Linked DNA regions of Homo sapiens. The protein of the gene in region 7 purifies or fractionates together with the protein of the main gene of each other region. This does not show direct contact. Each region holds a gene or a part of one and is shown on either strand. Other genes may lie near its edges.

Region 1 (3,500 bases), on a different chromosome or scaffold from region 7:
AAGGCAGGAGAATTGCTTGAACCCGGGAGGCGGAGGTTGCAGTGTGCCGAGATCGCGCCATTGCACTTCAGCTTTGGGCAACAGAGCAAGACTCCGTCTCAGGAAAAAAAAAAAAAAAAAAAAAAAAGAGTGTCTCTTAAGCACAGCTAGGTTTTTGGTTTGTTTTTTTTTTAATCTCATAAAATCTCTGCTTTTTTTTTCTTTTATTGTGATACATAACATTTCCCATTTTAACCATTTTCAGGTATACAAATCAGTGGCATTTAGTACGTTCACATTGTGCAATGACCGCCAGAACTTGATCTCTGCTTCTCTGGCAATTTAGTTCATTTACGTTTATTATAGTTATTTACATATATATGATGGTTATTTATATATGTGTCTACATAATTAGTTTTTATCAAGATGGGGTCTTGCCCTGTTGCCCAGGATGGTCTCGAACTCCTGGGCTCGAGTAACCCTTCTGCCTGGGCCTCCTAAAGTGCTGGGATTACAGGCGTGAGCCACTGCGCCCAGCCTATTGTGGTTATCAATGCATTTATTCTTACCATTTTATGGTATCTTATACTTTCTGTTTATCCTCTTTATTTTAAATTTTGTAATAGCTTTATTGAGGTGTACATGACATACAATAACTGCACTTGTTTAAAGTTTTTTTTTTTTTTTTTTTTTTTTGAGACAGAGTCTTGCACTGTCGCCCAGGCTGGAGTGCAGTGGCGCAATCTCGGCTCACTGCAAGCTCCACCTCCCGGGTTCACACCATTCTCCTGCCTCAGCCTCCTGAGTAGCTGGGACTACAGCCACCCGCCACCACGCCTGGCTAATTTTTTGTACTTTTAGTAGAGACAGGGTTTCACCATGTTAGCCAGGATGGTCTCGATCTCCTGACCTCGTGATCCACCCGCCTCGGCCTTCCACTAAGTGCTGGGATTACAGGCATGAGCCACCGCACCCAGCCTTAAAGTTAAATTTAATAAGTTGTGACATATGTTTACACCCATAGAACTCACCACAATCAAAACATAATATCCTAAAAATTTCACACCTAAACATTTCCACCTTCCCCTTTGTAATACTTCTCCCTGCCTCAGTTTCCTCACCCTATCCCTGGGCAACCACTAATTTGCTTTCTGTCACTAGGTAAGTTAGCATTTTCTAGAATTTTATGTAAATGGAATCAACGGTATATAATTTGGAGGGGGTAGTTTCTTTAATCATAATTATTTTGAAATTCATTCTGTCTTCTAAAGATTGGGCATCTCTAATTCCAAAGTCTGAAACTTCTGGAGCACCATAAGTGGACAATTCCACATCTGACCTCATGTGACAGGTTGCAGTCAAAACTTTGTTTCATGCACAAAATTATTTAAAATACTATGTAAAATTGCCATCAGGCTGTTTGTATAAGGTGTAGATGAAACACACAAATTTCATAGTTAGACTTGGAGCCCTTCCCAAGATACCCCATTATATATATGCAATTATTTGAAATTTGAAACACTTCTGGTTCTAAGCATTTCAGATAAGGGATATTCAGCCTGTATTTTATTTTTCTTTTATTTGTGTGTTTTTTGTTTTTGTTTTTGAGAAGGAGTCTCACTGTGTTGCCCCGGCTGGAATGCAGCGGTGCAATCCTGGCCCACTGCAACCTCTGCCTCCTGGGTTCAAGTGATTCTCAGGCCTCAGCCTCCTGGGTAGCTGGGACTACACGTGAGCACCACCACGCCCAGCTAATTTTTATATTTTTAGTAGAGATGAGGTTTCAGCATGTTGGCCAGGCTGGTCTTGAACTCCTGACCTTAGATGATTCGCTCGCCTCAGCCTCCCAGAGTACTGGGATTACAGGCATGAGCCACCACACCTAGCCTACATGTATTTTCTCATCCTCTTTTTTTTTTCCCCGTTTCTAGTTATATATATTTTCTTATTATTCATTTTGTTTTTTTCTGCTGGTTTGGGAGTTAGACGTGCTATGCTTTTAGAGGTTATTCTTGAATTTTTTTTTTTTTTTTTTTGAGACACTAGCCTGTTGCCGAGGCTAGAATGCAGTGAGTGGCGCAATCTCGGCTCACTGCAAGCTCCGCCTCCCGGGTTCACGCCATTCTCCTGCCTCAGCCTCCTGAGTAGCTGGGACTACAGGCACCTGCCACCATGCCCAGCTAAATTTTTTTGTATTTTTAGTAGAGACGGGGTTTCACTGTGTTAGCCAGGATGGTCTCGATCTCCTGACCTCGTGATCTGCCCACCTCAGCCTCCCAAAGTGCTGGAATTACAGGCGTGAACCACCGCACCCAGCCAAATTTTTTTTTGTTAACCTGTAAACTAACTTGTATACCTAATCAGAATAGTCTAAAATTAGTTGAATCAATGTTCTGAGGAAAACCCTTGAGAAAATAAAGTTAGAATTTCAAGTGTCAGAATCTTTTTGACATTGAGAGTTTGTGGCTTTGTAGTGTAGAAGAATAATTCACAGACACTATTTCACTTGTGTAACAAGGGAGACAGATTTTCAGATTAATTTCCAACCGAGCAAAAGCAGGATTTATATAGGAGAAAGAGGAACAAGGAGAGAGGGCAAAACCACAGAACAGTGGATTCTGTTTGCCCGTTTTTCTGTGTAAACTCTGATATTAACTCTCCTTGAGTATGCCACCCAGGGTTGGTGGATGCTCTAGAAAACACGATAGGCCCTCTGCCAGTAAGGGTTTTCAGCAACTCCAGATTCAGCCAGTCTAAATATACCCTTTCCATCATCAGCATTTCTCAGCCTTCATCTTTTGGTCAAAACAAGCTTGTAAAGGAGTGGGTTTATTCTCATGAGCTTCAGCCTCTTTGATGTGGGATAAGGCCATCTGTTGTCTTATGGTGATCTGAAGGTATTAGGGGGAAGTTCATCTATACCTGATGTCATGATTGACCTGTGAACTCTTTTTCTTTTTTTCTTTTTTTAGATGGAGTCTTGCTCTGTTGCCCAGGCTGGAGTGCAGTGGTGCAATCTCATCTCACTGCAACCTCCGCCTCCCTGGTTCAAGCAGTTCTCCTCAGCCTCCCAAGTAGCTGGGATTACAGGCACGTGCCACCACGCCTGGCTAATTTTTTGTATTTTTAGTAGAGACGGGGTTTCGCCGTGTTAGCCAGGATGGTCTCGATCTCCTTATCTCTTGATTGCCTGCCTCGGCTTCCCAAAGTGCTGGGATTACAGGCGTGAGCCACTGCGCCCAGCGACCTGTGAACTCTTACAGAGCTGCTGTCTACTTCTAAGAGTTACCTGATTCTGGAGGCGTTTTTTTGTTTTTGTTTTTGTTTTTTAAGTGAACCCCAGGATCTCTAGTGAGACTGAATGTCCGAGTTAGGATCCTAAGCAAGGGTATACATCTAGGGCTTTCCATCAGTAGTTGTGGTTGGGAAGGCATGGGAAAATGGTGTGGTCCTCTGCAGTGTAGTTAGGCCTGACTTCCGTTGGTGTCTCTCAATAATGAGTTTTTAGTCTCTTAACTATG
Region 2 (3,500 bases), on a different chromosome or scaffold from region 7:
AATAGTTTTTAGATTATATTAACAAAGTGGTATTTGGAAAAAGTAGGCATCTTGAACAGTCTTCCAAACTGATCTACCCCATCCGCCATATATCTCAGTTGTTCCTGGCTCACCAAAGAATTCTAAATCCTTGTTGTCTAGGAATATGAGACAGTAATGAAAGGCTTGGACCGTAATGCTCCCTCGGTGCCTCCTCAGAATACTCCTCAAGAAGCTCAACAAGTAGATATGTGGAAGAAATATATACAGTGGGAAAAGAGCAACCCTCTTCGTACAGAGGATCAGACCCTTATAACAAAAAGAGGTAACATGATTAACCCTCATGGGACTTCAGTTACATGTATGTTAGGCCACTTGGTATCCCCATAGGTTACTAAAATTTTCTTACCCCTAATCTTTTTTTCTTTTGTTCTTCAGATTCAATAATTCCTATAGATCTATCTCCATATTCACTGAACCTTTGTTTTCATCATATGCAGTCTGCAATTAAGCCCATCCAGTGAACGCTTTATTTCAGATACTATATTTTTCAATTCTATAAATTTCCATTTTAGAAATTTTTTATTTTTTATATTTCTTTTTTATGGTGTCCATTTCTTAGTTGAGATTCCTTGTGTGTTCATTACCATCTTTTTCTTTGTTTCTTAGAACATATTTATAATAGTAGTTATAAAGTCCTCATCTGCCAATTCCAACATCTGGGCCTTCAACCACCATGGAGTTTATTTTCTTTGATTGCTTTTTCTCTTGACTGTGGTTTACATTTCCCTATTTCCTGTTTAAATTTTTTCTTTTAGATATTGTACAAATGTACAAATGAAACATTGTAAAGACTGTAGATTCTGTCATCTTCCTCTGAAGAATGTTTTATTTTAGCAGGAAGTTAAATACTACTGTCAGATTACTTGGACTTTGTGGAGGCTTAGTTTTATACTATGAAGACAGGTCTGTTTTAGTTTTACCATTAATCTCAGATTAAATACCTTATTCTTGGGACATAGTCTTTACTCCTAAGACAATGAAAAGTCTAAGGTGTTTACCCCAACCATCTAATTGGATCGGACTCAAATTCTAAACTTCATCTCCCTTAGTTGCTGAGGTATCTATTTAACTCTTTCTGCCTTCCAGCTTTGTTTTCTGCTGGTCTGTTTGTATTCTTCCCTGTGTATGTACATTTTAGGGATCAGCTGAGGATTTGAGAACATTTATGCCCAGATTTTCGGGATCTGGCTTTCTCCTTTTGGGGATGTCTCCTCAATTTCCAGCTGCTCTCATAGGCCAGAACTCCATGTTACTTCAAGACAGTAAGACTGCAGCATTTGACTTGAGTTCTAGCTATCCCAGAAGTGCACAACATGGGCATGCGTTTGAAGGGAAAAGCCATATTTAAATATGGATCTCACCTAGTGTTGTTCTGTCTTTTTAAGGGCTCAGTCTCCTGATTTCTGCTTCTTTTGGTCATTTCCAGTACATTTAGATAGTTGCTTTTGTATTTGTGTTTTGTTTATTTATAATTTTTACTTGCTGAGGGTTGGTCTGATACAAACTACTCTGTCAGTGCCAGACTCTTAATTTGGAGCTTTATTGAATTCCTCAATCTTGCCTTGCTGTTGCCTTGCTATCTTACTTGCAGGTCTTTGCAAATATTGTTTCCTTTGCCCACTCCATTTTTGTATCTACCCCATCCTTACTCCACTTCACTTATTTGCCTCTGACCAGCTTCATCCCTTCTTCAGGTGTTGTGCTAGATGTCAGTTCCTTAGTGAAGCCTTTCTTGAGTCCCTAAACTATGTTAAGTCCTGCTGCTGTAAGTTTTCAGAGTATACTGTACTTTCATCATCATAATCCTTTTGATCTTTGCTTTCTGTCTGTCCTCCCCGTATACTGCAGACTTCTTGAATATAGGAAGTCTTACTCACTGGTATATTCACCGTGCCTTCCACATTCCCTGGCATATAGTTGGTGCTCAATAAGTATTAACTTAGGCTGGGTGCAGTGGCTCACATCTGTAATCCCAGCACTTTGGGAGGCTGAGGCAGGAGGATTGCTTGAGCCCAGGGGTTCAAGACAAGCCTTGGCAACATGGTGAAACCCCGTCTCTAAACAAGATTTTTTTTTTTTTTTTTGAGATGGAGTCTTGCTCTGTTGCCCAGGCTGGAGTGCAGTGGCGTGATCTCCACTCACTGCAAGCTGTGCCTCCCGGGTTCATGCCATTCTCCTGCCTCAGCCTCCAGAGTAGCTGGGGCTACAGGCACCCACCACCATGCCTGGCTAATTTTTTGTATTTCAGTAGAGACAGGGTTTCACCATGTTAGCCAGGATGGTCTCGATCTCCTGACCTTATGATCCGCCTGCCTTGGCCTCCCAGAGTGCTGGGATTACAGATGTGAGCCACCGCACCTGGCCACAAGATTTTTAAAAATAAGCCAGATGTGGTGGCACACGCCTGGTCTCAGCTACTTGGGAGGCTGAGGCAGGAAAACCACTTGAGCCCAGGAGGTCGAGGCTGCAGTGAACCATATTTGTGCCACTGCACTCCAGCCTACGTGACAGAGACCCTGCTTCCAAAAATAAAAAAAATTAATAAGTGATGGATAGATGGAGGGAACTTGGATGGATGATGGTGCCAGAAATCACTAAAGCTTTTTATTTCTAATTATCATTAATTTTTGAGGAGCCTAATTTGGTTATGATATTTACATTGATAGTTTTACAAATAATAATTATTTTAATTGAATATTGTTTGTTAATTTCTTCCCTTAGTTATGTTTGCTTATGAACAGTGCCTGCTTGTGCTGGGCCATCACCCTGATATTTGGTATGAAGCTGCCCAGTATCTTGAGCAGTCAAGTAAACTGCTCGCAGAAAAGGGAGTAAGTGTTCCTTCCCTATCCCCACTTTGATATTTTTGTGGTTTTGATATAGCAATTATTTACTGAAAAATATAACTGAATTTTGGTAATAAAGCATAAGTATTGAAAATTTAAGTTTACGTTCATATGAATCTTAGTGACACTCATATAATTAGACCTCCTTAGAATTAAAATAAACTGGCAGTTTTTTAACGTATCAAAGTAATGAATCATTTAGAGTACTTGCATGGTTATTTTGTAAGTTAAAATAATGAAAGGAGTTTTTGGAATTTTTTTAGAATCCAGAAATGCATATGTGTTTATGTATGTGTGTGTGTGGATACATATATATGTGTGTACATACATGTATGCTTTCTTAGACACATAAATAAAATAAAGTAGATGTAACTTTATTAATTTTATTCTCTCACAACTATATTAAAATTATTGAAGATGAGCTTTCTTTTTTTTCTACCAGGATATGAATAATGCCAAATTATTTAGTGATGAAGCTGCTAATATATATGAAAGAGCCATAAGCACTTTATTGAAGAAGAATATGCTTCTTTATTTTGCATATGCAGATTATGAAGAGGTAAGTAAAAATGTTTAGAGCCTTCTTATAATTCAATTTTTTAGTGCAGGACT
Region 3 (3,500 bases), 1.3 Mb from region 7:
GAAATATGACAACGAATCCTAAGCAGCCTTAAAGAGTATTTTGGGTCAACTAAGCAATGATTCATGATTCAGACAGAAATGAAACTCATGGAGGGTAATTCTTTTTTTTCCTTCAGACAGAGTCTCGCTCTGTTGCCCAGGCTGGAGTGCGGTAGAGTGATCTGGGCTCACTGCAACCTCTGACTCCCTGGTTCAAGTGATTCTCCTGCCTCAGCCTCCTGAGTAGCTGGGATTATAGGCATGCGCCACCACGCCTGGCTAATTTTTGTATTTTTAGTAGAGACGGGGTTTCATCACGTTGGCCAGGATGGTCTCGATCTCCTGACCTCATGATCCACCCACCTCAGCCTCCCAAAGTGCTGGGATTACAGGCATGAGCCACCGCGCCCGGCCTCATGGAGGGGAATTCTTAAATAAGCCCAGGGGCCAGTTTCCACTCCAGCAATGCTGCTCAGCTGAGAACTCCTGTGCACACTGCTGCCGTGTAGTAGAGTTAAGGCATTTATCCATTCAGCTAACATTTGCAGAAGAGGTTGCTTCTCCTTTGGCCTAGCCAGATAAGGCACAGGATTCGAGGGCTATCCCCTGGACCTTCCGAGTGCCCAGGAACATGCAAAACATGCAGAGTCAGCCTTCTCCTTGGCCTTGACTTCCCTGTGAAATGTACAGCAAAAACCCTCCTCCAGTTTCTTTCCATACCTGCTGTTCCAGAGCAAACCTCTTCATCATCTTCTCCTCGGGGCTCATGTTGCTGTTGTATTCTCCGAAGCGTTTATCTCTGAATACATTGGATTTATCCCTTTCTTTGTACTCTTTTAGTAAAGTCTGTGTACGCTGGAAAACAGGTCAGAAACAATCTCACAAAAAATTCTTGTGATTTCCACTACAGGGGACATCAGAACAGTGCATACTTTAAAGTTCAGGGCTATGCACAGTGATGTCAAAGTTCACACCCAATCTGCTTTCATGCACGATAGGCTTTCTCTACTAATCACAGAATTTTGAGAAGAGCAAAACAACTTTCAAGGATAATGGGGCAATCACTTTCTTTTCTTCTTTAGAGTCTACCGGTGCCAAAAGGAAGGGTAAAAAAGAACACACTAGTCAAGCTCAAGGCATGAATGGCTCCCTCGGCTGTAACAGCTGCCTTAAGGTTTAAAACGTGCACATTTGGAAAAGTGGAAATGGGTTTAGACTCCTTCCGTCATGGAGGAGGGTACTATTTCCCATCAAAGGTACTCCTAAGAAATGTGTAGTTGTGAGTTCATACTAGACACAAGGCAATAAACAAGTTAGCGAGGTCACAGTTTAGGGGCTTCACCTTTATAACACCAAGAGGAGCAATATTTTAAATACGGTTAGCAAGTATCAAATAATTTGGTTATTTTCCCAGCAGCAACAAAAAAAGACCAAGTTTAACAGTATTCAAAGTTGGCTGTCCTGGAGGTTGAATTCCCTAAAGAAAGCTGTGAGAGGACAGAGATGGGTGAGGAACGAGTGGCCTCTGCAACCTGAGATGGCCACATTGCAAACTCTTTCTTGCTGCGGAACTTCTTCTATTTGCTAAGGAACTGCCATTACACTGGTGTTTACACAGCAATTCCGAAAGGAAATGGCATCAAGGCAAAATCTTGATGCCATGGAAGGCCCTTGGAATGATCCAATTCAGTGGTTTTACAAACCCACCACAAATCGGTGCCTCGGCAGACATTTGAAACCTCTCATCTAACCCGACTTAAGTGTTCCTTGCCTTCCTCAGGGATTCCTCTAATTTGTGAAGTCACTTTGAAAGAATGCGTGCGTGTGGCAGGAGGGAGCGTGTGGTGACTTGGTCACTGCCACTCTGGTTCCAAGTTCTGTTTCAGGAGGGGACAGGTCAGATTTTGCTCCAGACATAGGTCACTTCCCCAGGGTCGGAGATGAACTTAAAGGCTAAGAAACCCAGATTTAAGGTCAAAACCAGGAGCTGGAAGAGGAGGAAAAGAGAGTGGAAGGGGTTAAGAAGCAGCTGGGCAAGAGCAGAAGATGCTCCAGCAGGGACAGAAGCACGACCTGGCCCTCCTTTCCATTTAGAGCACATTCCATCTGGAGAGGTCAACCGAAATATTAATCATGTGGACAGGAGAAAAGGATGTGAAAAAACCATTTCTCTTATCTCACTTTGAAATGTGAAAGTGCTATTATTACACTTAAAATGCATGAAAAACCCCTCTGCTACCTGAAGAGTAGGAAACCATCCATTAGTTCAATAAATACTGCCAAGGCAATTTTCGTCATTTTCTTCAAGAATATTTCAAGAACCAATTTGTTTCAACTGACACACGCTGAGTTATTAATCCCTAGTAACTTCTAGTAACTTCCTACCGTGGCAGTGCTAAACAATGTTTGTTAAAAACACCTTTGGGGCCGGGCGCGGTGGCTCACGCCTGTAATTCCAGCACTCTGGGAGGCCAAGGCGGGCGGATCACGAGGTTAGAAGATCAAGACCATCCTGGGTAACATGGTGAAACCCCGTCTCTACTAAAAATACAAAAAAATTAGCCGGGTGTGGTGGCGGGCGCCTGTAGTCCCAGCTACTCAGGAGGCTGAGGCAGGAGAATGGCGTGAACCCGGGAAGTGGAGCTTGCAGTGAGCTGAGATTGTGCCACTGCACTCCAGCCTGGGCGACAGACAAAGACTCTGTCTCAAAAACAAAAAAAAACAAAAAACACAAACAAACCACCTTGGGTACAATTTCCTGAACCAGAGTCTAAAGACAGCGAGTGTCCCCAGATAGACCAGAGGGCTCCATCGCCATTGCTCTGTTCTCTCCGCTTCTGTTACGAGCCATTCCAGAGCGAGATCCTGCTGGATGCTGATAGTGAACCACACACAGTACTGAATCAGGTTAAGCTCTCTGAACCTTCACCATTCTTTATCCGCAGAGCAAAATTTTAAAACAACATCTCACTATTTAAATCACAAGGTCTAGCTGGCAATCAGATGGGAGCACATTACATGTGCTAGCCTGTACTGCTCGATGAACTCTGTACGGACAGAGGCTGCTTGCATGCTACACTGAGACCTTTTTTTTTTTTTTTAAAGATGGAATCTCGCTCTGTCGCCCAGGCTGGAGTGCAGTGGCACAATCTCAGCTCACTACAACCTCCACCTGCCGGGTTCAAGCAATTCTCCTGCCTCAGCCTCCCCAGTAGCTGGGATTACAGGCGCACGCTGCCACGCCCAGCTAATTTTTTTGTATTTTTAGTAGAGATGGGGTTTCACCGTGTTGCCCAGGCTGGTTTCGAACTCCTGAGCTCAGGCAATCTGCCTGCCTCGGCCTCCCAAAGTGCTAGGATCACAGGTGTGAGCCACCAAACCCAGCATACACCGAGAAGACTTCTGAGGTCTGTCCCTGCAGAGGGAGGGAGTGTCACTGGCTTCTAGCAGGAAGGGGGTAGATGGGGCAGGCATCAGCCATCTCTGCCTCTAAAAATATTAGTTCTCATTATCTGGAATAT
Region 4 (3,500 bases), about 23 Mb from region 7:
GAAAAGTGATTTTCCCCTCTTCCATCCCAATGTTCACCTTCTACAAAAATCACAGAGCATACAAGCCAGAACTGTATGAAGCCTCTCATTTCACCTGGCATAAACAGAAAGAAAATCAATGGGAAAGAAAAGTCAAAGGATAACTTAATAAACATAAAATGAAGTCTCACAATTCAATACTTGAGAGTCTGGACCTATCTTCTGAAATATGCCATCAACTATCTTTGCTTCTCCTGCTTCTGGCCTAAGGTGACTGTTAATTAAGTGTTTACATTGCTCCAAAATGCCAACGAGGTGTAGTTTATAATAAGAGTACACAGAAATGTGCCCAGCAAAGTAAGAAGCACTGTACTCACAAATGGTTCAAATACTTGACACCTTAAAGATCATGGATCATACAGCTAGAAAAGAACTCTTAAAGAACATCTGGTCTGAACAAAAAGGATTCATGTTTCTAGTATTCACTCAACCATGGGGGAAGGAGGAGATGACAAAAAATATAATTGAAACAACTTCCTTTTTTTTGAGATAGGATCTTGCTCCATTACCCGGGTTGGAGTGCAGTGGCTCACTGGATCATGGCTCACTGCAATATCAAACTTCTGGGTTCAAGTGGTCCTCTCACCTCAGCCTCCCGAGTAACTGGGACTACAGGCATGCACCACCACGCCTCGCTAATTTCTTATTTTTGTAGAGATAAGGGTCTCACCATGTTGCCCAGGATGGTTTTCAACTCCTGGGATCAAGCAATCTCTTGCTTCAGCCTCCCAACGTGCTGGGATTACCGATGAGCTACCATGCCCAGCCTAGTTTAATGATTTCTATACTTCTAGCATAGTACCAGGCAATTAAGACATGGTCAAGAGTTACAAAATTTGGGGGAAGAGAGGTGACAAAGTAAATCATGTATTATATATTGCCTTAGTTTGTTAAAGTAATACCTATACTAACAAAGATTTTTTCAGGGGCCCACTTCATCAGATGCTTCATTACCAAACCAAACAAAGGATGTATAAAATACATTCTAAAGATAAAAGGTTAGCTGCTGATCAAGCAATGGCGACAGCTGTGGTATTAAGATAAAAGGAATGCTGGAATCACCATTGCAAGACACTGCCTCAATTTACTGATCTGCAAAATGAAGAGCATTTTCAGATACTTTTAGTCTCAGATTAAAGTAAGAAAACAGGGAGGATGCAGGAGGCAAATTCAGACACCTGGAAATGTTGCTTATGGCTCAAACTACCTTCCTTCGATGAGAGAGGGAGTACAAATGAAAGGTGAGTAAAAGGGGAAAATCAAACCCTCCACTTCATAAATATTTGTCAACTATTGTGCACATGCGTGTTTTCTTTTTTAAAAGATACTTTTTATTATAAAGGAGTTTTGTTCTTAAAAGTTTACTAGTTGAAGTATAAGGGTTTTTAAAAACTGGTATCAAGTCAGTGCTTCAGACACAGCCACACCACGAGCAGGGAGGGAGGTATGACATGACACAGTTGTTGAACATACTGCTCTGTACTGTGTCTCAGTTCAATCTTGGCTCAAGACTTAAGCCAACTATAGGATCACAGTTATTTCTTCCCTCACCTATAAGATGTGGCTATCAATATGTTTTGTAGAGTATAGATAGGATTAAATGAGTTAATATATGTGATGTGCTTTAAGTGTTGTCTGGCACATTGCAAATGCCCAATATCGGTTGTTGTTGTTATTATTACTATTATTTTGAGACGGAGTCTTGCTCTGTCACCAGGCTGGAGTGCAGTGGTGCAATCTCAGCTCACTGCAACCTCTGCCTCCCTGTTTCAAGCGATTCTCCTGCCTCAGCCTCCAGAGTAGCTGGGACTACAGGCACATGCTGCCACACCCAGTTAATTTTTGTATTTTTAGTAGAGACGAGGTTTCACCATGTTGGCCAGGATGGTTTCAATCTCTTGACCTCATGATCTGACTGCCTCGGCCTCCCAAAGTGCTGGGATTACTGGCATGAGCCACCGCGCCCCACCAATATTGGTTATTATTAAAGATCTTTTTAAGTTCTAATACCATGTTAAAATTCTACATGGAGGGCAAGACCTAGTGACTCACGCATGTAATCCCAGTGCTTTGGGAGGCCCAAGTGGGAGGATCACCAGAGGCCAAAAGTTTGAGACCAGCCTGAGCAATACAGTGAGACCCCATCTCTACAAAAAAATTTTAAACTTAGCTAGGTGGGGTGGCACGCCTGTAGTCCCAGCTACCTGGGAGGCTGAGACGGGAAGATCACTTGAGCCCTGGAATTTGAGACTGCAGTGAGCCATGATCACACCAGTGCACTCCAGCCTGGGAAACAGAGGAAGACCCTGTCTCTAAAAAATAAAAAAATTCTACATGGAATAATAACAGGCACTGAAGTACTGCTAAGGAAGACATTAACTGGTCATCAAAATCATGATATTTTAAATAAGCATTGCTTTTTTTTTTTTTTTTTAAAGACAGTCTACCTCTGTTACCCAGGCTGGAGTGTAGTGGTGCAATCTCGACTCACTGCAACCTCTGCCTCCCAGGTTCAAGCAATTCTCCTGCCTCAGCCTCCGGAGTAAGTAGCTGGGATTACAGCAGTGCGCCACCATGCCCAGTGTATTTTTGTATTTTTAACAGAGACAAAAATAGGTTTTATTACCTTGGCCAGGCTGGTCTTGAACTCCTGACCTCAGGTGATCCATTCGCCTAGGCCTCCCAAAGTGCTGTGATTACAGGTGTGAGCCATCACACCCGGCAATAAGCACTGCTTTTTATCCGTCAATCTTATTTCCAGGAACCTCTCAAGGATGTGTGCAAATACGTATGTATAAGGATGTTCATCAAACTTCTCATTTATAAAATAGCAACAAGTGGAAAACTACCTAAATATCAATGAACAGGATATTGGTTAAATAAGTGATGTCATACCTTTACAACTGGAGTACTATGGCAGTCAATCTATTTATTTTTTATTATTTTTTTTTTTTTGAGATGGAGGCTCGCTCTGTTGCCCAGGCTGGAGTGCAGTGGCACAATCTCGGCTCACTGCAAGCTCCGCCTCCCGGGTTCATACCATTCTTCCTCAGCCTCCCAGAGTAGCTGGGACTACAGGTGCCCGCCACCACACCCGGCTAATTTTTTGTATTTTTAGTAGAGACAGGGTTTCACCGTGTTAGCCAGGATGGTCTTGATCTCCTGACCTCGTGATCCACCCGCCTCGGCCTCCCAAAGTGCTGGGATTACAGGCGTGAGCCATTGCGCCCGGCCTATGGCAGCCAATTTAAAAGCGTAATGTGTACCTACAGTTAATGACATTTCTGAGTGGAAAAAAAAATCAAAGTACAAAATAACACGCGTTGATCCCACTGATATTAAATTTTATAGTTCATATTTTTGAGTCAATATGCAGAGATCTTAGAAAATGTTCACCAAAAACTGTTATCCAAAGATGGAGATGAAGATTTTAGGGAATGCCTTCTTTAAACCTTTGAGTA
Region 5 (3,500 bases), on a different chromosome or scaffold from region 7:
ATATATATATATAATATATATATTAAGCATTTACTATGTGCCAGGCACCATATTAAGTGCTTTAGATATGTTCTTTCACTTCATCCTTACAATAACCTTATGAGCTATTATTCCTATTTACAAATGAGGTACAGAGAGGTTAAGTAACTTGCCAAGGGTTACATAGTAAGTAAGAGATGGAGCTGGCATTCCAAATGAGCAGTCATACTCCAAGCCTGGCTCTTAAATTATTGGAGAGGCAGCAGAAAATAACAGAAAAACATTAGGATTGGGGTTGGTAGGTCTGAGTCAGTCAGTTCTGGAGAAAGGGGGCAGCTTGCTGAAATCAAAGGGGAGTTGTAAAGGCCAAATCCGAGTGCATGTGAAAGGCTCTGCTCAGGGGGTGTCGCATTAGTAGGTGATGATGCCTGCTTTGTGAACTGCCTGCTGCACAGTTTCCTGGGTATGCACTTTTTTTCCCTTTAATACAATAAATGAAATTCATAGACTAACCACATGAGGCGGTTTCAAAGCACGAATAAATTCACTGGTTTGCTGGTAATCCGTGTGAGCTGAGAAAGAAATGTAATCAACAGACATTTTCAGTGGTAACTTCTGTCCAGACATAGTAGTGATTTCTTCAGGTTCAGACATGATGTGCTGTGGAAAATAAAGAAAAATAACAAAACAAACTACCCAGTTATAATCGTAAAGGTACATTTTCATTTTTTTCATGCAGTCATAAATTCATGTTAAATTTAGGACCTTACGCACAAAATCATTCTAATATAACTGACTCAGTAAATATCAAATACTCATGTTCTCAATCAAGCAAACATTTAATGAGAAAAGTAAACAAATTAACTAAAACTCATCTATCTGGAGTGCTGGCAGTGAGAATCATAACTCTTATGCTTAGAAAGACAAACCTGTATTCCCAACTATTCTTGTGCTCTCCAAAGTCATTTCCTAGATATGTGGATATATTTCTATTCTGAAAATCTTTGTTTTTTCAAATAGGGTCTCACTTTGTCACCCAGGCTGAAATGCAGTGTGCGATCTCAGCTCACTGCAGCCTCGACCTCCTGGGTTCAAGCAAGCCTCCTGCCTCAGTCCCCCAACTAGCTAGGACTACAGGCACGTGCCACCACACCTGGCTAATTTTTGTATTTTTTGTAGAGATGGGATTTCTCCATGTTGCCCAAGCTGGTCCCCAACTCCTGAGCTCAAGTGATCCACCTGCTGTGGCCTCCTGAAGTGCTAGGATTACAGATGTGAGGCACTGTGCCAGGCCTGGAAATTTTTTTTTTCTTTTTTTTTTGGAGATGGAGTCTTGCTCCGTCACCCAGATTGGAGTGCAGTGGCGCCAATCTCGGCTGACTGCAACCTCCGCCTCCAGTTTCAAGCAATTCTCCCTGCCTCAGCCTCCCGAGTAGCTGGGATTACAGGCATACGCCACCACGCCCAGCTAATTTTTTGTATTTTTAGTAGAGACGGGGTTTCGCCATGTTGGCCAGGCTGGTCTCGAACTCCTGACCTCAGGTGATCCGCCCGCCTTGGCCTCCCAAAGTACTGGGATTACAGGTGTGAGCCACTGCACCCAGCCTGGAAATCTATTTTAAATACAACATTGTCACTAAAGAACTTTATAGAATAAGGTAAAGTAATAAAGATTATCAAAGAATCATATCATATTTTTAAAAATAAAATAGAGGATGAGAATGTGATGCCTGGATGCTCAGAAACTGCCTCCCAAGTTCTGCATATATTTTCTACAATTTCTACATCCCTAAGAGCTGAAAATCAATGTTTCATAATAGTAGAAAGTGGTCAACCCAAACACATTCTACAGCTTTTTAAGATCATATGTATTAGTCAACCTCTTCTTCATGAGAGGACGGAGAGTATTCACGTGTTTGTCTCAAACAGGTTCCTGTCCATTCTTCTCTACTTGCAACCAGATGAGCATTTCTCAAACTTTAATGTGTATATCAATCACCTGGGACCTCATTATGCCATTCAGTGTCTGCATAATTCTACATCCTACGCACATCTCTAGCTACCTATTCCCGTCCTCATTTTTAAAAATCAAAACTTGTATTATTTGAAGAACTACTTCAGTGCAAAAACCTGTGAGGACCGTGCCACCTCCGTGATTCTGAATAGGAATAACACAACAGCCTATGACTGTAACTGACCTTGGCAAGTGTCCCTTCTACACAGTATCCCGCTATAATGACACCATTCCTCTTATCAGTACACCAGCTTTCAAATAATTCTCTGGATAAGCCACTTTGCATCATGCCTGGGGAGGCCATTACAACACTGGGACCAATGTCATCAAAATGATCCATGCTCTAAGAGAGAAAACAGAATGGGAAAAGTATGTTAGCTACCAGCAGCTGACAAAGCATTCTTTCTTTTTAAAGAATAACAAAAGGCTAAGAGATTAATCACATCACTGAAAGAGCCTTCACAAGATCTGTAAACATTTTAAGTTCAGTTGCCAAATTCCTAAACAGTTTAGGCTAGGAATGGTAGAAAAACCAAGTAATAAAAAGCGGTAAGTTCACCCCGATCTTCAAAACCTTCTGTTGGTAGCTAGAGGGCCATCAGAACCATCAGGACCATCTTCAGCGCCTAGCAGGCAGGCAGAAAAGTAAAAGGAAGAGTCAAATGGGTCTTGATCTACCCAAGACACAACTCTGAAAAAATATTCCCAAAGACTCACAATAGCTTTGCATGCTCCATGCATGTTTTGAGCTGGCCTGGAAATCAAAAGGTTTAACATTGTTCTAGGGAGAACTTGTCTACAATCCTTAAGCAGTTAACTTAAAATAAATACTTTATGAACAAAGCCTATTTACAACTGGAAGTCCACTTTTAAATTATTTCGGATATCAATTATTTTATTATGATTCAAGCATCGAGTTAAACAGTATTTTTTAAATTAAATAAAATCAGATTTTATTGAATGCTTCCAGAAAAGTATATAAAAATTTTCATATATAGAATTTGCAGCACTAATCAAAAAGATGATTTGGTTTGAGTGAGAAGAGAAACTTAAATACATAATACAAAATATTTTTCTCCTCAGAACTTTTTATGCCTACGGCAAAAGAGATGAGTATTATAAATACTGAGAACACATGGCTACTTGGGGCAAGTGGCAAAATCTGTTGAAGCAGAAAAAGAATGTCAGCTGCTGAAGTTTTGATTTTCTGCAGAAAAACGACACCTGTTGAGAAGCGGTAAGACTCCAGCAAGAGGAATTCAGCCAGAGTCACTGACAAGCACTGCCTACGATTTTTATTTTATTTTGATAGAGACAGGGTCTCACTATCTTGCCCAGGCCGGTCTCAAACTCCTGAGTTCTAGTGATCCTCCTGCCTTAGACTCCCAAAGTGCTAAATTACAGCTGTGAGCCATCACTCACGGCCTCGTACCTCCTACTACTAATGACTGATTTGGTTTTATCCATCCTTGTCTTTCTTCCACAAGCACTCACCTTGAGGTTACTA
Region 6 (3,500 bases), on a different chromosome or scaffold from region 7:
AAGGAACTTTCTAAAATATTCAAAACCCACTTTATCCACTTTAGGTAATTTTAGGGCAATAAAATCTGAATTTTCATTGGCTCACCATTAAGATTTTTAGTGATAATACTCATTAATGTACTATTATATAAAAATAAAATTTATCCCACCTTTATTCAATTATAAAGCATATGGCCAATTTTTATAATAAAATTTTATTTTCTATAAAATATTCCTTAAAATTACATTGAAAACATAAGGCAATTACTTTTTTCACATTAAAAACGATCATTTTTATCCACTAAATAGATATAATTTGCTTTCCACACATGAGTAATATGTCTTCCCTTGAAAAATCAATTATCTTTACCACTTTCATTTTTTCAGCGAATGTTATCTACCAAAAGTTAGGAACATGGACAACTGCTGGGCATTCCAGTACTAAAAGGAAATAAATGGCTTTTTTTTTTTTATAACAAAGGTTGGCTGTTTTTGAAAAGGACTTTCAAATAGTAAATATTTTAGGCTTTGAGAGGGTCTCTGTTACAAATACTCCAATCTGCCTTGCAGTATGAAGGCAGCAACCATAGAGAAAAGGTAAAAGTAGACTAGCTGAGTTCCAATGAAACTTTTTTTTTACAAAAGCAAGTGTTAAGTCCAATTTAGCTGCTGGTTATCCCATGGTTTATCTATTTCTTTGCTTTCTTTCAGCATGGTTCTCTTGAACTGAGTATCTTTTGAACACCTGCTATAGGTGAGGCACTAAAGATTTAACAGTGAACAAAGACATAATCCATGTGCATATGTAGAAGGAAAACATAAAAAATATGTAATCAAATTCCCATACTGTGTGACAACATTTTCACTATAACTAACCAAACCCTTTACTTTCTTCCTAGTATTTGGTGAGCAGAGCTACATTTTTGTATACTTTGTTAAAATAACAAAAATTGATTCTATATACTGAATTATTTAAGGCAGAATATTTAGTAAAATCAATATTTAGTATGTTAAATTTATCTAGAACCAGACATTTTTCGTAAATTCTGCTTATAAAAGCATGCGCTGGTCCAAGCTGTCTTGAGTAGAGGTAAAATTAAAAGAAAAACAACTAAATAATAAATAAAAGTATTTGTTGAAGTAGAACTTAATCTTCTTCATTTAAGTAAAACTACAACTTACCCATACATACCTCTTTCACCTTACCAGAATCAATAACAAAGACAACATCATTGACTGTGATGCTGGTTTCAGCAATATTGGTGGAAAGAATCTGCAACAAGATATTACTTTAAAGTTAATAAAAAAACAGAAAAAATAACTAATGAAAGTGTTAAAAAGAAGATTTTATGAAGCTTACTATTTTTCGAACACCTGCAGGTGGGTTTTTTAATACTTTCTTTTGATCGGATGTTTGCATATTTGAATGAAGCATAAAGACTTGGTATCTGCAGACAATTGAAAGAGAAAACATACTATAAGACCTGTCCGTTATTTTAAGCAACAGATATAAGGCTTTAGCCCTTACCTATGTGTACTGTCAGCAAACCGCTTGTCATCAAACAGGATGCGATCTCTCAGTCCAACAATTTCGTCATATCCAGGCAGAAAAATTAGTACTGCACCTTGGAGAAGAATGACTTTTTAATATTAAATCTCATTGTGAATCAGAGGCAATCAACAGAATTATAAAAATCTGTATCACATGTTTTCAAGTACTGGTAAACTATCATAAGATGACAGGAGATTATTCACTTACTACTATCAGTGCAATTATATAAAAATTTGTACACTTAAAATATTAATTCTTAAAGTATATATTTTGCTCCAGTTCTTTTAGACAACACGTATTTACCAGCATCACAACTATGGCAGATATTGTATAGAAGATGCATGATCAAATCCAAGTCTACTTTTTCATCATCGAAACTATGATGATAAGCTTTCAGGAGCTCTCTGTCTTCAGCACTGAGGTCACTTCCATTTGTTTGAACCAGAGAACTTTCATCTAGATTTCCAAATTCCAGTGTAGCACTGAAAAAAAAAAAAAAAAAAAAGACAAAGTCAATTTCCATTAACAAAAGTAATCCTTATGTCCTTCAAATTTCCAATATTCCCTAAGGAAGGTAAGGTAAGTGACACTTAATGTCCTAGCTATAATATGATTCATGTTTTGATTTCAAGCACATTATTCAAAGTAAAATTTGGCAATGAATGCTTTTAGAAAAGCACAATCTGAAGGCATTTCTCCAAAGTAAATATACAAATGGCCTATAAGCACATGAAAAGATGTTCAACATCATTAGCTATCAGGGAAATGCAAATCAAAACCACAATGAAATACCACTTCACACCAACTAGGATGACTACAATCAAAAAGACAGACAATAACAAGTGTTGGAGAGGGTGTGGAGAAATTTAAACCCTCATGCATTGCTGGTGGAAATGTAAAATGGTAAAGCTGCTTTGGAAAACAATGTGGCAGTTCTTCAAAAGGTTAAACATAGAGTTACCATATGCCCCAGCAATTCCACTCCTAGGTGTATATATAAGAGAAATGAAAAAAATATATCCACATAAAAATCTGTACACAAATATTCATACCAGTATTATTCATAGTCAGAAAGTGGAAACAACCTAAGTGTTCATCAATTGACAAATATACAAACAAACCTTGGTATATCCATAGAATATGTATTAGTCATAAAAATAGTGCTACAACATGGATATTTTATGCTAACTGAAAAAAGCCAATCACAAAAACCACATATCACATGATTTCATTTATATAAAATGTCCAAAATAGACAAATCTATAGAAACTGGAAGTAGATTAGTGGTTGGTCTAAAGCTGGAGGAGGCCTAGGAGAGTTGGGGCGGAATAGGGAGAGACACCTAATGGGTACAAGTTTCTTTTTGTGGTGATGAAACTGTTCTAAAATTGATTGTGGTGATGATTGCATAAGTCTGTGAACATATGAAAAACCATTGAATTGGTCACCTAAATGGGTGAATTATATGGTATATTAATTATATCTCAATAAAACTGTTAAAAACCACAAACTTTCAGCTATCATTTATATTTTCTTAATAGGTTGTATCTAATTGTTTACTACTATAAACAATATTCTGATGTATAGTTCACATTTTTAAAAAACTCAGTAGGTACCAACTTAACATGACTGTTAATTAGAAAATTCTATACTAAAAGCAAGTTGATTATGCTATTTTCCAAAAGCAAGAATCAACATAAATTACTGAAATAAATGCCTTGCTTCTTCATCTTATATGTAAAAATGTAAACTACTGCTATCACTAGCAATTATCAACAGAATTTCTAGGAAGTTCAAATAAATCCAATCTCTCTTAAAGAATTTAGCAGAAAAATAACGTAAGACTATTTTCAATGGGAAAAATATTAAACTTCTACAACTTAATAATTGGCTCTTGTAAATGTTTTATTATACTTTAAGTTCTGGGATACATGTGCACAACATGCAGGTTTGTTACATAGGTATACAC
Region 7 (3,500 bases):
ATACTCTGCAGCCCAGGCTGGAGTGCAGTGGTGTGATTAATGGTTCACTGTAACGTTGAATTCCTGGGCTGAAGCAGTTCTCCCACCTGTCTCCCAAGTAGCTGGGACTACAGGTGCAAACCACCACACCTGGCTAATTTTTAAATTTTTTGTAGAGATGAGGTCTCCTTATATTGCCCAGGCTAGTCTCCTGGCCTCAAGCAGTCCTCTCGGCCTCCCAAAGTGCTGGAATTACAAGCATGAGCCATTGCACCTGGCCCAGAAATGTAAATTTCAACCCCAATCCTGCCAAAAAGTTCAGGAAAACACTAAAGCTTTCTTTATATCCTTCTGTGTCTGTGTGTTTGAGGGACCAGGATAGGCAAGAACATGCTGCTTAAAGACAATAGGGCAATGCCAATTTTTTTTTCTCCAATTAGAATTTTACAATATTTAACTTGAACTTCATTTTTCCCCATCATGTATTTTAATAAGCTTACATCTATGATTGCTGACTCCTAAGAAATAAAATGTTATCTAACATTCAAAATTATATGAAAATGATTTTTAAAATCTTCATGTCTTTAGTTTTCCAGTTGCCAATCCATTCTTTATTTACGTCATAAGCCCCAGTAAGTCCCTATTAAATAGCTCTTAGCAGGTGTGAACTATCCCCAGCATCATTTGTACTACCCAATCTAAGCAACTCTTTAGAAACGCAATGCCACACAGCTTGTTCAAGACATGCCACTGAAACAAGACTACCTTGGGACTTCTTTAATATAACGATCGTAGGCAATTGTGTTCTTCCCATAGTTGATCTGCTTCTGTCTCCTCATTAGGACACTTTCATCTGTCTCAAAGTCAGCCGGCACAGTAGACATAGACTCCTTTGAATCAGAACTGAAAAAACAACAGATTAACAGAATAAGCCCTGCAATTAAGATCACCATGTATGTAAGGTAAGCCAAGAAAATGTCAAAACACAATAATGGAAGATTCACTCCAGATTCCCAACCATATGAATCCTAAATAGTCCGGAGACTGCATGTATGGGAATTTAGTACACAACAGATACAGTATTTCAAATTAGTGAAAAAGGTATTAATAAATGCTACTGCGACAGTCAGCATTTCTGACAGTCACAATTTTTTTTTTTTAACAAATTACAGGTCTATCAAATTAGAAAAGAAACATTTACACAGCCTTTACCTTCCTGATGATGATTTTCTCTCTCTTCCAAAGTCATTGATGAGGAGTTTCCTTTTATATCTGAGGGCAAAATAAATATTGCTGTTTTTAAAAAAGATATAAAAATAAAGCAGCCAGGTCTGAGGAAGCTCCACCCTGATGCCCGCAGGCACACCATCCTATGCAATCCAGAAGCTCCGTGGGCCAAAAGAAATCTTTGTCAGGTTCAGTTTAAGTAGTGAGATCCACACAACAAAAATTTACATTCCCTAAAACTTGGCAGCCTTAAAAAAAGAAAAACAAAACATAAATTGAAATAAATTATTTTAAAAACACCAAACTTACTAATGGGACTCATATGCCTACTGGGCACTGCATACCTTCTCCAATCCTGGAGACCAAACGTGCCCCCTTTTCTCTTGTTCCTCATGAACTTCCTGAGGCATCTGCTTTCTATTGCAGTCATTACCAGAACGCAGTTTTGCAAAAAAAAAAGTATGACATCTCCAAAAGGAGTCTAGCGCAATCTGACGTTGAAACCACGAGCTACCTTGAGCTCCAAGTTCATGTGAGTATCTTTTTTTTTTTGAGATGGGGTCTCACTCTGTCACCCAGGCTAGAGTACAGTAGCACGATCATGGCTTACCACAGCCTCATATTCCTGGGCTGAAGCAATCATCTCACCTCAGCCTCCCAAGCAGCTAGGACTCCAGGCAAGTGCCGCCACAACCATCTCCAAAAAAATTTTTTTCTTTTTTTGGAGACATGGAGGTCTGTGTTGCCCAGGCTGCTCTTGAACTCCTGAGCTCAAGCAATCCTCCCGCCTCAGCCTCTCAAAAGTACTGAGATCAGGAGTGAGCCACCACCCCTGGCCTGTCATGCAGGTATCTAAATTATGTCATGTATTACTGTGCCTCCTCTCAAAATCTAAAATCCACCCAAGTTTGCTGAGGTGTTCAGTGCAGTTTGGACGCCAGAAGGTAATGAAGTAATTTATCTCCCGTGCATCTAGAGTAGCACTGGCTATATAACACCATCTTTGTACGATTCAGAGATTAGTCCTGCAAATCATTTGCTGCAGGGCCTCATTCTCTCCAGTACCACAGATGAGAAAGACTGGTTTTCAGGTATGATGAAAATCCATTTTCTTTTTTTTCTTTTTTTTTTTTTTTTTGAGACGGAGTTCCCTCTTGTTGCCCAGACTGGAGTGCAATGGCGAGATCTCGGCTCAGTGCAACCTCCGCCTCCCGGGTCCAAGCGATTCTCCTGCCTCAGCCTCCTGAGTAGCTGAGATTACAGGTTGCTGCCACCACGCCTGGCTAATTTTTAGTATTTTTAGTAGAGACGGGGTTTCTCCATGTTCGTCAGGCTGGTCTCGAACTCCTGATCTCAGGTGATCCGCCCGCCTTGGCCTCCCAAAGTACTGCGATTACAGGTGTGAGCCACCATGCCATGCAGAAAATCCATTTTCATACTCTTATATTGCTAGTTTGTAGTCTGTTAGTCTCCTTAAAGCATAGTAAGCTGACATTTCATACCGCTCTTACTGTCAGGAAGTAAGCCGGCCTGTCAGTAATGGCTCACTAAAGGGCCAGCAGTTTAAATTACACAGGTTGCACTAAAAGCTGCAGCTTTGGCCAGGCAAGGTGGATCACGCCTATAATCCCAACACTTTGGGAGGCCGAGGCGGGCAAATCACCTGAGGTCAGGAGTTCAAGACCAGCCTGGCCAATATGGTGAAACCTAGCCTCTACTAAAAATACAAAAATTAGCCGGACGTGGTGGCACACAGCTATAATCCCAGCTACTCGAGAGGCTGAGGCAGGAGAATCGCTTGAACCTAGGAAGCGGAAGTTGCAGTGAGCTGAGATTGCATCATTACACTCCAGCCTGGGAAACAGAGCAAGACTCCATCTCAAAAAAATAAGTAAGTAAATAAAAGCCGTAGCTTTCCATCACAAAGGGTATAATCAACAGAGCAGCCCAAACAGTGCTGTTTTCCAAAACAGGACAATTTTCAGGCACAGACCCATGAGATATCTGAAGAACAAATAGGGTCCACTCACAGGACAATCTGGACAGGTGGAATACGCATGAATAAGAGCTGCAGATAACCCCTGGCAAGGGGTGACTTGAGGGAGCAACTAGGCTATCGGTATGCAAGAACTGTTCTAAGACTTGTGCATGCAACACAAACTATACAAGTCAAGTCAAACATTCTAATTTTATAATTGAGGAAGTCAAGACCTATATAAATGCAATAATTCACTAAAAACACTGGTACTCTCATCTGTGAACTCCTAGTTCATTTCTTCTACCAAGGCATACAT

Evidence for each region.
Region 1: the proteins of SLBP (region 7) and EIF3C purify together in Homo sapiens (affinity purification with western blotting, with the first as the bait; one study listed by BioGRID). This does not show direct contact.
Region 2: the proteins of SLBP (region 7) and CSTF3 purify together in Homo sapiens (affinity purification with western blotting, with the first as the bait; one study listed by BioGRID). This does not show direct contact.
Region 3: the proteins of SLBP (region 7) and NOP14 purify together in Homo sapiens (co-immunoprecipitation; one large-scale study listed by IntAct). This does not show direct contact.
Region 4: the proteins of SLBP (region 7) and DHX15 purify together in Homo sapiens (affinity purification with western blotting, with the first as the bait; one study listed by BioGRID). This does not show direct contact.
Region 5: the proteins of SLBP (region 7) and CPSF3 purify together in Homo sapiens (affinity purification with western blotting, with the first as the bait; one study listed by BioGRID). This does not show direct contact.
Region 6: the proteins of SLBP (region 7) and YTHDC2 purify together in Homo sapiens (co-immunoprecipitation; one large-scale study listed by IntAct). This does not show direct contact.

Annotation. Positions count from the first base shown.
Region 1 is NC_000016.10:28,717,964-28,721,463, forward strand, and holds part of EIF3C (eukaryotic translation initiation factor 3 subunit C), read left to right. Parts: intron 1-312; exon of another isoform or gene 313-3,069; intron 3,070-3,500. UniProt on the Homo sapiens protein: Component of the eukaryotic translation initiation factor 3 (eIF-3) complex, which is required for several steps in the initiation of protein synthesis.
Region 2 is NC_000011.10:33,098,981-33,102,480, reverse strand, and holds part of CSTF3 (cleavage stimulation factor subunit 3), read left to right. Parts: intron 1-141; coding exon 142-304; intron 305-2,763; coding exon 2,764-2,873; intron 2,874-3,330; coding exon 3,331-3,447; intron 3,448-3,500. UniProt on the Homo sapiens protein: One of the multiple factors required for polyadenylation and 3'-end cleavage of mammalian pre-mRNAs.
Region 3 is NC_000004.12:2,956,907-2,960,406, forward strand, and holds part of NOP14 (nucleolar protein 14), read right to left. Parts: intron 835-3,500; coding exon 700-834; intron 1-699. UniProt on the Homo sapiens protein: Involved in nucleolar processing of pre-18S ribosomal RNA. Has a role in the nuclear export of 40S pre-ribosomal subunit to the cytoplasm.
Region 4 is NC_000004.12:24,578,055-24,581,554, forward strand, and holds part of DHX15 (ATP-dependent RNA helicase DHX15), read right to left. Parts: intron 1-3,500.
Region 5 is NC_000002.12:9,440,654-9,444,153, reverse strand, and holds part of CPSF3 (cleavage and polyadenylation specificity factor subunit 3), read right to left. Parts: coding exon 3,488-3,500; intron 2,337-3,487; coding exon 2,178-2,336; intron 640-2,177; coding exon 493-639; intron 1-492. UniProt on the Homo sapiens protein: Component of the cleavage and polyadenylation specificity factor (CPSF) complex that plays a key role in pre-mRNA 3'-end formation, recognizing the AAUAAA signal sequence and interacting with poly(A) polymerase and other factors to bring about cleavage and poly(A) addition.
Region 6 is NC_000005.10:113,551,694-113,555,193, reverse strand, and holds part of YTHDC2 (3'-5' RNA helicase YTHDC2), read right to left. Parts: intron 2,014-3,500; coding exon 1,835-2,013; intron 1,605-1,834; coding exon 1,508-1,604; intron 1,428-1,507; coding exon 1,340-1,427; intron 1,253-1,339; coding exon 1,172-1,252; exon of another isoform or gene 1,162-1,171; intron 1-1,161. UniProt on the Homo sapiens protein: 3'-5' RNA helicase that plays a key role in the male and female germline by promoting transition from mitotic to meiotic divisions in stem cells.
Region 7 is NC_000004.12:1,698,820-1,702,319, forward strand, and holds part of SLBP (histone RNA hairpin-binding protein), read right to left. Parts: intron 1,252-3,500; coding exon 1,192-1,251; intron 883-1,191; coding exon 745-882; intron 1-744. UniProt on the Homo sapiens protein: RNA-binding protein involved in the histone pre-mRNA processing.